2 separate regions of the Homo sapiens genome follow, and region 1 is linked to region 2. The links come from fine-mapping of genetic effects on gene expression. A gene starts in region 2. The other region holds a variant in brackets. All regions are shown on one strand. Distances are from middle to middle.

Region 1 (5,382 bases), 22 kb after region 2:
GAACACAGCCATTCATTTATATATTGTCTATGGCTGCTCTGCAGCAGAGTTGGATAGTTGGGATAAAGACCATATGGCCGGCAAACCCTCAGATATTTACTGTCTGGCTCCTTGCCGAAAATATTTGCCAACTTCTATTCTAAAAGAATCAGTGGAAGTCCTTGTTTTTTTGTGTGTTTGTTTTTGCAGCTTGGTAATATGCACCTCACCATTTCTATCAGAAAATTGAGATGTACTCTGCGTCATCTATACAAACAAATATGCTCTGTGTGAGTGTGTGTGTGTGTGTATGAGAGAGAGAATTTACTGATTTCTAGACCTGTTTTCTCACTGTCCTCATTTCTGCCTTCTTGCCTTGTAAGATAAATATGTATCATTATTTTTTCTCCCTTGAAATAGACCTTATTTTTTACAGCAGTGGTAGGTTCACAGCAGAATTAAGCAGAAAGAACAGAGAGTTCCCATATACAACCTTCCCCCCGAAAAGAGCCTCCTTTCCTGTCAACATCCTTTATCAGAGTGGTACATGTGTTACAACTGATCAACCTACAACGACACATCACCATCACCCAAAGCCCATAGGGTACATTAGGGTTCATTCTTGGTGTCGTACATTCTGTGGGTTTGGACAAATGTATAAGGATGTGCATCCACCATTACAGTATCATGCAGAGTAGTTTTCACTGCCCTAAAGTCCTCCTGCTCCACTTAGTCATCCCTCCCTCCCCCCAACCCCTGGCAACCACTGATTTTTTTACTGTCTTCATAGTTTTGGTTTTTCCAAAGTGTCATATAGTTGGCATCATATAGTCTCTCTCTGTCACCCAGGCTGGAGTGCAGTGGTGCAGTCATAACTCAATTTAACCTCGAACTCCTGGGCTCGAGGGATCCTCCCTCTTCTGCCTTCTGAATAGCTGGGACTATATGTATGGACCACACGTCTGGCTGATGTTTTTATTTTTTGTAAAGATGGGGTCTTGCTAGTTGCCCAAGCTGGTCTTGAACTCCTGGCCTCAAGTAGTCCTCCCACCTCAGCTTCCCAAAGGGCTAGGATTACAGGCATGAGCCCAGATAGGCTTCTTTCAGTTAGTAGTATTTATTGCAAGTTCTTCCGTATCATTCTTCTTGATATTTGATTAAGGGCTGGGCCAGGTAGGGATGGATCCTGGATACAAATTTCCAAGGGCTGTTATCAAAATGGAAAAAATTGCCTTTTTCCAGAAATCTTCTTGGGAAGAGTGTTGTGCATGGAATAGGATGCAAGGCTCCCAAGGGTGGAAGTCTTAAAGGGGGGTCAGTGAACTCCATCCTGTGGAGGGAGAGTGCAGTCAACTGCAGGGTGAGGGTTTTGCTGAGTGGTGTCTGTAAGTTTGTAACCAGAGTGGAATTGCTAAGGATGAAAACACCTAAACTTCCATATAAGCCATGCCCCCTTTTTGTTTTCTCATGCAATACCAGGCCTCTAATCTAAATAAATGGTGCCCCAAGAATTTAAAGAATATTGCTGCCAAATTATTAGCCGTCTGGAGTGGTCACATGTCTTAGAATGGCCCAAGATATGTATTTTTATTAGCATGATCTAAAAGAAGGATCACCAGCTTTGGAAGATTGAATTCTTACTTCAATCCTTATCTTAACTTTAACCACATGGTTTGGTGGCTTTCTAAATTTCTTTTTTTACATGGTTGCTAATAAATATATCATTTACAACATCCAGTGAGGTCACTGAATGACATCTGTGAATGTCTGCATTGTTTGAACAACTTGCTCTACCAGAAGTGTGGTGTTGTCAATTGGCCATTTGATTCCCAAAGTCTTACCCTTGTCAAAAACTTAATTTAGGGAGTCCCAAAGAGAGGTATTTGGGGCTGGGTCTGATTAGATATCTCATAATTATATTGTACTTATCACTTCTATTCAATTCAACCAAATTTACTGAAAGTCTGCTATGGGCATGGCATGGCAGAGGGTGAATAAGGCATAGTCAGCTCTTGGCACTTAGTTAATGGAAATTATGTTTCATATGTTCCTCCTTTCCTTTCCTGTAGGTTCAGCTGAATCCAGAACTTGGTGTTAAGAATGGCATCTTGGGAGCTGGCATGCTTCCCCTGGGCTCCAGGCTGACTTCTGTCTCTGCAAAGAGGACCTCAGAACCCAGGAGCCAGAGGAACCAGGGCAAGAGGTCCCAGGGGCATTCTCTGGAGCTTCCTGAGCCCAGTGGGAGCCCCACATCAGACAGGTGTGCTGGCACTTCGTGGAAAAGCCCTGGCCGGTCATTCCAGGTCAGCAGCCCAGCTATGGGTGCCCACCTGCACCTGTCTTCTCATCACCTTGAATCCGGGGCCAGAATGAAGGTCCTCAACCGGGAAAACAGCTTTCAGAAGCTTGAGGCCGAGACGAATGTTGACACCGGCTTGACCATCATAAATTCTGAACCCAGGCAGACTTATTTTGGCGGATTTCCAAGGGATTTACAGACCAGCCAGCCACCATTCTGCTTGCCAGCCTCTTCCTTGGGGGTGGCTACCTCCAAAAACAACAGTGTCCTTAAGGAAAGAGTCTCTCCTTTGCCACTTGCTGGCCAAAGGGACCTTGGTACCAGGAAGACAATTTCAGAATGTCTCCTTCATCTGCAAGTTCAGGGTGAAGAAAAAGAAGAAGATGAAGAAGAATTCTTTATATAGCATAAAATAAATGTGGTTTTCTAAAACACAAGATCAGATAAAATGTTCTAGAAATGGAGTACTGACCCAGAATCAGCCTGTTAGTTGTTCATCTGAGGGGGGCTGAATGCTCCCCATGCACAATCTGTATTGATTTTATTTCAAATGTTCAAAGTCTAAAGGTGCTGGGAATGATTGTTTATTTGCCGTCACAGTCATAAGAGAACACAGCCAACACACAGGGAAAAAAACCGAATGCTTTTGTTCCGTGGAGATGCACTAACCCAGCTGGATGTGTTGAATCCAGCACCTATCAGGATAATTGCATTGTATGCAAATGAATCGGTATGTTATACAACACTAATTAGTGTCTGTAATTTGGTTTTAATTTTTACTTAGGTTGCATAGCTCATCCCCCTGGACAATATGGACTGCTATTTACTCTTGAATGCTTTTTAATTTTCATGTGACCTCTTTTGGTAACTAGGCCTTGTTCACATACCCTCCTTGTGATTTTGTCTTTAAAG[T/C]TGTTTGTATCTGGAATGAGTGAAAATGCAAAGTGTTTTGAAAATTATAAACAGTTAATTTTGTTTTCCTGTTTAATGAGCCAAAATACTGGAAGCCAGAAAATCAGGTTGAACATGAATGCTAGGCTCTAGGGCTTTCCTGCTCATCTGCTTCTCATTTGTTTCTGCACTATGTCAAAGAGGACAGTGGTTCTTGTTACAAACCAAAGAGGAACATTGAGCACAGTGGGAAAATTGGACTGGTTGATCTGGTCACTGGAGCAGGACTTGGGTTCTTCTGGCCAGATTTTGACTCCCAGATTCCTTTACAAAACGCACTCATTCATTCATTTATATATGTTCATTCAATAAACATTTTTTGAATACCTACATTTGAATAAGACATTGTGTATATGGTACATATACATTCTGGGGCCATGAAACCCAAAAAGTGTTTATGGTTTCACCACTCTGATAAATTCATTCTACCAACTTTTAAAAAGATACTGAATTCCAAATATATTCCTCCAAAAACTTTTTCCACAGTTGAGGCCCACACTGGCCACATAATGGTGTAATAAGCATTTGCAACCTGCAGATGGAGACTGGGCATATTATGAATTGCAATTATAATTGCAATGGACAAATTCTCGTTGCCCATATGCTGAATTTTTTGGATATGTCTGTACACACATGTTTAAAAATCCCGAGGCCTGTGTTTCAGTTCATTTATAAGGTTATTCAATTCCACGAACTTCACTCTCAGAACAGATGTTACATAAGAGTGTAAATGTTGATTTAGCTGGATCTTTTGGAGACTTGGAGACTTACTACACCTAACTGGAGACAGAGATGAGTTCAGTCCTAAAGTCAAATCTTGCAAAAGTGAGTCTAGGCTGATTTTGGGTGCTCTTCTCCGCAAAAGGGATAGAAACGGAGGAGAGTTGTAAATGGACAAAGACAAGACTCCTCAATTGATATTTTTTGTCCTTAAAACATCAACATATTCTCATTCCCATTTTGTCTCTCTCTCCCCTAGACTACAATTTGATTTTAGAAAACGGGATGAAGAGCTTAACTTTGGTATAGCTTTCTATAATAAGAGTTAAAACAAAAAAGGAAGTTGAACTACTGAACTTTGAATAAGCACAGCAGGAAGAAGTTTTGAAATTTCCTTCCCACTTTTTTTTTGATGTTATCTAAATTTTCTTAATATAATACATGGGTAAGAATAAAAGTACCTGAAAATTATAAAGAATATTGAGAAATGTGAATCAGGCACCTTACAAAATTGACTTGTAAAATAATATACCCTTAAAATGTCATCTATTCTATCCTACTTGTATTATTCAGGGTTCCCTAGAGGAACAGAACTAATAGGATAGATAGATGTATATATGAAAGGGAGTTTATTAAGGAGTATTGACTCACACAATCACAAGGTGAAGTCCCACAATAGGCTGTCTGCAAGCTGAAGAGCAAGGAAGCCAGTCCAAGTCCCAAAACCTCAAAAGTAAGGAAGCTGATAGAGCAGCCTTCGGTCTATGGCCGAAGGCCCTAGAACCCCTGGCAAATCACTGGTGTAAGTCCAAGAGTCCAAAGCTGAAGAACTTGGAGTCTGATGTTCAAGGGCAGGAAGCATCCAGCACAGGAGAATGATGAAGACCAGAAGACTCAGCCAGTCTAGTCCTTCCACATTCTTCTGCCTGCTCTATTTTAGCCACGCTGGCAGCTGATTAGATGGTGCCCACCCAGACTGGGGGTGGGTCAGCCTCTCCCAGTCCACTGACTCAAATGTTAATTTCCTTTGGCAACAGCTTCACAGACACACCCAGGAACAATACTTTGCATCCTTCAATCCAATCAAGTTGACCCTCAATATTAACCATCACACTACTCAACACAGGAATTCAATTTACAACATGATGGGATGGAAATACCAGTGAACTGGGTGGGGAGGCCCAGATTTTGGTTTCACTTTTAAATTTACTATTGATGTGACCTTGAGCATGTCAGGCTCCTTTGTCCTCTGTTGCTTTATCAACTGTAACAAAAGATTGTTAGGGGAATCAAGATGTTGTATATGAAAGCATCTGGATTTCATGAAGCATTATAAATGTGTGAGTTTTTTATGATTATTGTATTATATTGTATATTATATAATATAGTGTATTATTAATACCATTGGTCCTTCGGACCCACAGTTTAAAAAT
Region 2 (5,382 bases):
TCTTCCCTGGCCTCCTGCCCCTTGGATTTGTTGGCACTTTGGCTGCCAACAGATTAATGAAATCTTTTCAATCCTGAAAGAAATGACAACCTCATCAGGAAAAAAGTGTATTTTCAGCATTAGATGGAAGATAATATCAAGAAACAAAATCTTTTCCTATGTAAGAGCTTTAATACTTACCTTGTGCAAAATGTTGTGAGTTAATATCGTGGTTTCAGGGGAACAATTTTTCTCCTCAAATCTTTAGAGTTATTTCCAGAATTTCAAAGCCTATTTCAAAAACTATAGTTTTGTCTAAAGTACAATCAGCTCTGTGAATGGAAGGGTTGCGGAAGGGAGAGTGTTCACACTGAGAGATGAGATAGTTATCTGCTTCCAATGCCAATGCATAACATGAATGCTGTCGAGTTTTTTTTAAAAAAGCTTGAGATTTGTAATGCCAAAAAAAAAAACCTCTAATGATTTTTTTAAAAGTTGAAACAAGATGAATTTAATTACTGAGCTGCTCACAATAACTAGGAAACAATTCCTCTGTTATAAATTGTATTTATGTATTTTTCCCATGCAAAAAGTACAGGAATTATGAAACACAAATGATTAGAATTGTACGTTAGATTTACATAGTGAATCTGAATAGAAATAACTCCTTTTCTTGGATAATAATATTTTACTTTAAATTAGGTTGTTATACTATTAAAGGAATCCAGATATATAAAGTTGTTATATTTTTCATCACAAAAGTATTTTTTAATGTAAAAAATTGTCACACTGTGTTTCATTATAAGGATTCATAAATTTGCCTCTTTTATTTTAATTTTTTACAGCTCTTTTTGAAGTACATTTTTTTTCTTTGAGACAGGGTCTTGCTCTGTTGTCCAGGCTGGAGTGCAGTGGCATGAATTTAGGTCAGCACAGCCTGGAACTCCTGGGCTCAAGCGATTGTCCTGCTTTGGCCTCCCAAAGTGTTGAAATTACAGTTGTGAGCCACTTCGCCTGGTCCAATTGCCTCTTTTAAAAAGAATTGTGTTTAGAAAAAGTGCTTGTTCATACCTGTTGAGGAGCACAGCTATCAGGAGAGCAAATGATTTTTTAAAAATATTTATTTATTTATTTATTTTTATTATTTTTTATTTTCTGAGACGGAGTCTTGCTCTATCACCCAGGCTGGAGTGCAGTAGTGCGATCTGCAACCTCCACTTGCTGGATTCAAGTGATTCTTGTGCCTCAGCCTCCTGAGTAGCTGGGATTACAGGCATGCTCCACTTTGCCCGGCTAATTTTTGTGTTTTTAGTACAGACGGGGTTTTGCCATGTTGCCTAGGCTGGTCTCGAACTCCTGACCTCAGGTGATCCACCCGCCTCGGCCTCCCAAAGTACTAGGATCAAGGCGTGACGACTATGCGTGGCCACAAATAATTTTTAAATCAATATTTAGAACACATTTAGGGTGAGTGTTTAGAGCTTGACAACTTTCTCATTGAAGATTATTCCGTTTAAGATTCAACAGCTCAAGAGTCTGCAAATCTAGATCCTTAACCAGAACTTGCTTTTATATCTTTTCCTTACAAGAAGAATACCCAGGCTGGGACTTCAAGGCCCCAGAGAGGCAGTGCAGCAAGTTCCTGGGTTCAAATCATCCTTCAGCTACTTCTTAGCTGTGAGACCTTGGGCAAGTTACCTAGCCTTTCTATGCCCCAGTTTCTTCATCTGTAATTTGGGGCTAGTAATCTCTTCTTCATAGGTTTGTTGCAAGATTAAATTAATTTACATTAAGGGCCAGGTGTGGTGACTCATGCCTGTAATCCCAGCACTTTGGGAGGCCAATGCGGGCAGATCACCTGAGGTCAGGAGTTCGAGACCAGTCTGGCCAACATGGCAAAACCCAGTCTCTACTAAAAATACAAAAAAATTAGCTGGGCGTGTTGGCGCACTTATAATCCCAGGTACTGGGGAGGCTGAGGCAGGGGAATCTCTTGAACCTGGGAGGTGGAAGTTGCAGTGAGCCAAGATCACGCCACTGCACTCCAGCCTGGGCGACAGAGCAAGACTCCATCTCCAAAACAAAACAAAACTAATTACTTTAAGAATTAGAACAGTTTATGACTGGTACATAGTAGATCCTCATTAGACACTAAAAATTATAATTACAATTGTTAATTATAATTATTTATTATTATAATTATATGAGCAATTATAGGAAAGCTCTCACTCTTTCTAAAGAATTTGCGTGAATAAAGGAAGACTAATTTTCTCAATGTCTTTTTAGTACACTCAGAATTTTCGGTACAGCAAATAATTTTCAGTGAAGTCAAAATTATTTAGATAAAGTCTTCTCTTCGTGCCCTAGCAGAAAATGTTCAGAAACAAAATGAAATAAAGAGACAAAGGAAAAAAAAAACTGGCAAAGGGTCAGGTTTTGAGAATTGTTTTCAAGAAGTCATTGTATTCAGATTGGTGGAGCAGGCTACTGTAAACCGTAAGTAGGAAATGAGAACCCGTTGTAAGTTGATAAAATGGATGTCTTTTCAACTAAACAGATTGCTATCAGCCTAACAGAGCCAACTCATGTTCCTTTTCGGCCGGTCATTTCCTGTACTAAGTGTCTATAAGAGCCGCCCATTTGGGTGTTTCTCAGGATTATAGGTTTTTAGGTCACGCAGAAACCCTGGGGAACGCCTGAAAAGGCTAAACACAAGCAGTTACATTATGCACAAGCTGGATGACGTGACCCCGCTGCTGCTGTGTGGAGAGGGAGGCTGCTGAACCCGAGCTGGTGTGAGCTTCTCTTGCCGTAAGTCCACGGGTGGCCAGGAGCACGTGTTAGTCTGGTTAAGAGCTCTGCTCAGAAGTAGCCGCTGCAGCTGAAGGTTTTCAGGCGGGCTGAAGGCTGGGCCGCTTCTTCATTCATTTCAGAAACTTGAACAGTGGGCCTTCTACACACGCTGTCTTTGTCAGCCTCAGGCAGTTCCTCCATGGATGAGACACAGGGGCCTCTGGCCATGACTGTCCATCTTCTTGCCAACTCTGGGCACGGCTCCCTTCTGCAGAGGACTCTGGACCAGCTCCTGGATTGCATTTGCCCAGAGGTCCGGCTCTTTCAGGTGTCTGAACGGGCCAGTCCTGTGAAATACTGTGAAAAGTCCCATTCCAAGCGGTCCCGGTTTCCAGGGATGTCCGTGTTGCTCTTCCTGCACGAAAGCCCGGGAGAGGATAGGCTATTTCGCGTCCTGGACTCTCTCCAGCATTCGCCATGGCAGTGCTACCCCACCCAGGACACTCGGGGAAGGCTGTGTCCCTACTTTTTTGCCAATCAGGAGTTCTACAGCCTGGACAGTCAGCTGCCCATCTGGGGGGTGAGGCAGGTGCACTGTGGCTCCGAGATCCTGAGGGTGACGCTGTACTGCAGTTTTGATAACTATGAAGACGCCATCAGACTCTACGAGATGATCCTGCAGAGAGAAGCGACCTTGCAAAAGAGCAATTTTTGTTTCTTCGTGCTCTATGCCTCCAAGAGCTTTGCTCTGCAGCTCTCCCTGAAGCAGCTGCCCCCGGGAATGTCAGTGGACCCCAAAGAGTCTTCGGTGCTGCAGTTTAAGGTTCAAGAGATCGGCCAGTTAGTGCCTCTGCTACCCAATCCATGCATGCCTATCAGCAGCACCAGGTGGCAGACTCAGGACTACGATGGCAACAAGATTCTGCTTCAGGTATTTCTGTTTTGTCTCAGATCTTGTAGAGGCTCATGGAGCTGTGTAATTTTACATCGGAATGGGCCTAAGCTAGTGGTTCTCAGACTTGGTTGCATATTAGCGTCCCTTAGGGTCTTTCATAAATTCCCACCCCAGGGCAGTTTGATCCGAATCTCTGGGAACATCCAGGCCTAGGTAACTTTTTTACAGCTTCTTGGATGACTGTAATCTGTAACAGGGTTGAGAATCACTGATCTCATAAAATCTCATCTGACAGATAAGAAAGTTCAGATTCCATGAATTTGCAGCTGACACAAGTACTTTATAGTAGAATCAGACAGGATTCTACTATAAAGATCAGAATCCTATTAAAGAATCGGCCTCCTTTCTCAGGCTTGCCGTTTAAATGCCCATCAACTATACCCCTATCCTTTGTTTACTCTTTGGGCTCAGGAATGTCACAAGCTCTTCTAATCTGACTTAAGGAAGTTGAAGTCATACTTATGTTTAGATATGGTTTTTTTAATTTTTAATTTTTTTATTTTTTAGAGATGGGAGTCTTCCTCTGTTGCCCAGACTCGAGTGCGGTGGTGCCATCATAGCTCCCTGAGGTCTTCACCTTCTGGGTTCAAGTGATCCTCCTGCCTTAGCCTCCTGATTAGCTGGGACTACAGGCACGTGCCGCCATGTCTGGCTATTTTATTTTATTTCTAGAGACGGGGTCTCACTATGTTGGCCGAGCTTGTTTAGGGATGTTAAGTTTGCAGTACTATTGACTTAATTTTTATTCTTTATTATTATACTTTAAGTTCTGGGGTACATGTGCACAAAGTGCAGGTTTGTTACACAGGTATACATGTGCCATATTGGTTTGTTGCACCCATCAACTCGTATTGACTTAATTTTTAAGCATCTTGCATCACTGTCAAATTTTACCACATACCAAGTTAGATAGAATGCTTTCTTAAAAAAACTTGAAATTAAAGCCTTCCTTTGTAACCATCCTCGAAAACCTAACATAGCATGTGTGTATTTAGTCATGATAGCTGCCGTGCATTGCCTTTCCATGGTATGTGAGCCTGGGCACTTAGTAGCTGTATGACTGTGGGCCTCAGTTTCTTCATTAGCACAATAAAGGCACCCGAGAATTAGCATCTTCCTCTCTCATACTTACTTACAGGAAATGACCTGACACTTATAAAGTACATAATTAAGATAGTGCCAAGAACTCAATTTTAGCTATTATTGTTCATATTATGCCCTATACTAAGGATTCTCTTAAATTGATAATTTTATTTAATACTTATAACAACCTATGAAGTTACTATTTTTCCCATTTTGGAGATAAGAAAACTGAGCTTTCCAGGGGGTCAGTTATTTGCCCAAGATAGGAAGTATCTATCTACCCTCAAAGTTCATGTGGTCAGCCGCTGCAGTCCAGTGTATGTGTGTAAATGTGCAAGCAGGGGGATGAATGTCATGTTCACAGCAAAATATCCTGTGGCTTCTGTCCTTAAGAAATGGTCAGAAGCTCCTTAAGGCCTATTGAATAAAGTAATAAGAGACTACAAGATGAGATGTCTTTCCATTTGGTTAATTTTGTTGTCATCACTTTGACTTGTTAATAAAACATGAATCATATTCCATATTAAATGATTTCTAAATTATTCACCTTCTTGCTCACATAAGGTAGACAG

Evidence for each region. PIP is the estimated chance that this variant, and not a neighbour inherited with it, causes the effect.
Region 1: its variant is the best candidate, but not a certain one, in a credible set for the expression of FAM124B in whole blood (TOPMed, PIP 0.65).

What each region holds. Positions count from the first base shown.
Region 1 is chr2:224,376,875-224,382,256 of GRCh38, reverse strand. FAM124B (family with sequence similarity 124 member B) reads left to right here. Exons shown (of 2, transcript NM_001122779.2): 2 at 2,049-3,559. The coding sequence ends at 2,684. Among named protein-coding and RNA genes, the nearest start is that of FAM124B, 23 kb to the left of the region's middle. The variant T/C (reference allele first, on the strand shown) is at 3,191.
Region 2 is chr2:224,399,358-224,404,739 of GRCh38, reverse strand. It overlaps FAM124B (family with sequence similarity 124 member B), which reads left to right and starts at 2,633. Exons shown (of 2, transcript NM_001122779.2): 1 at 2,633-3,703. The coding sequence starts at 2,972.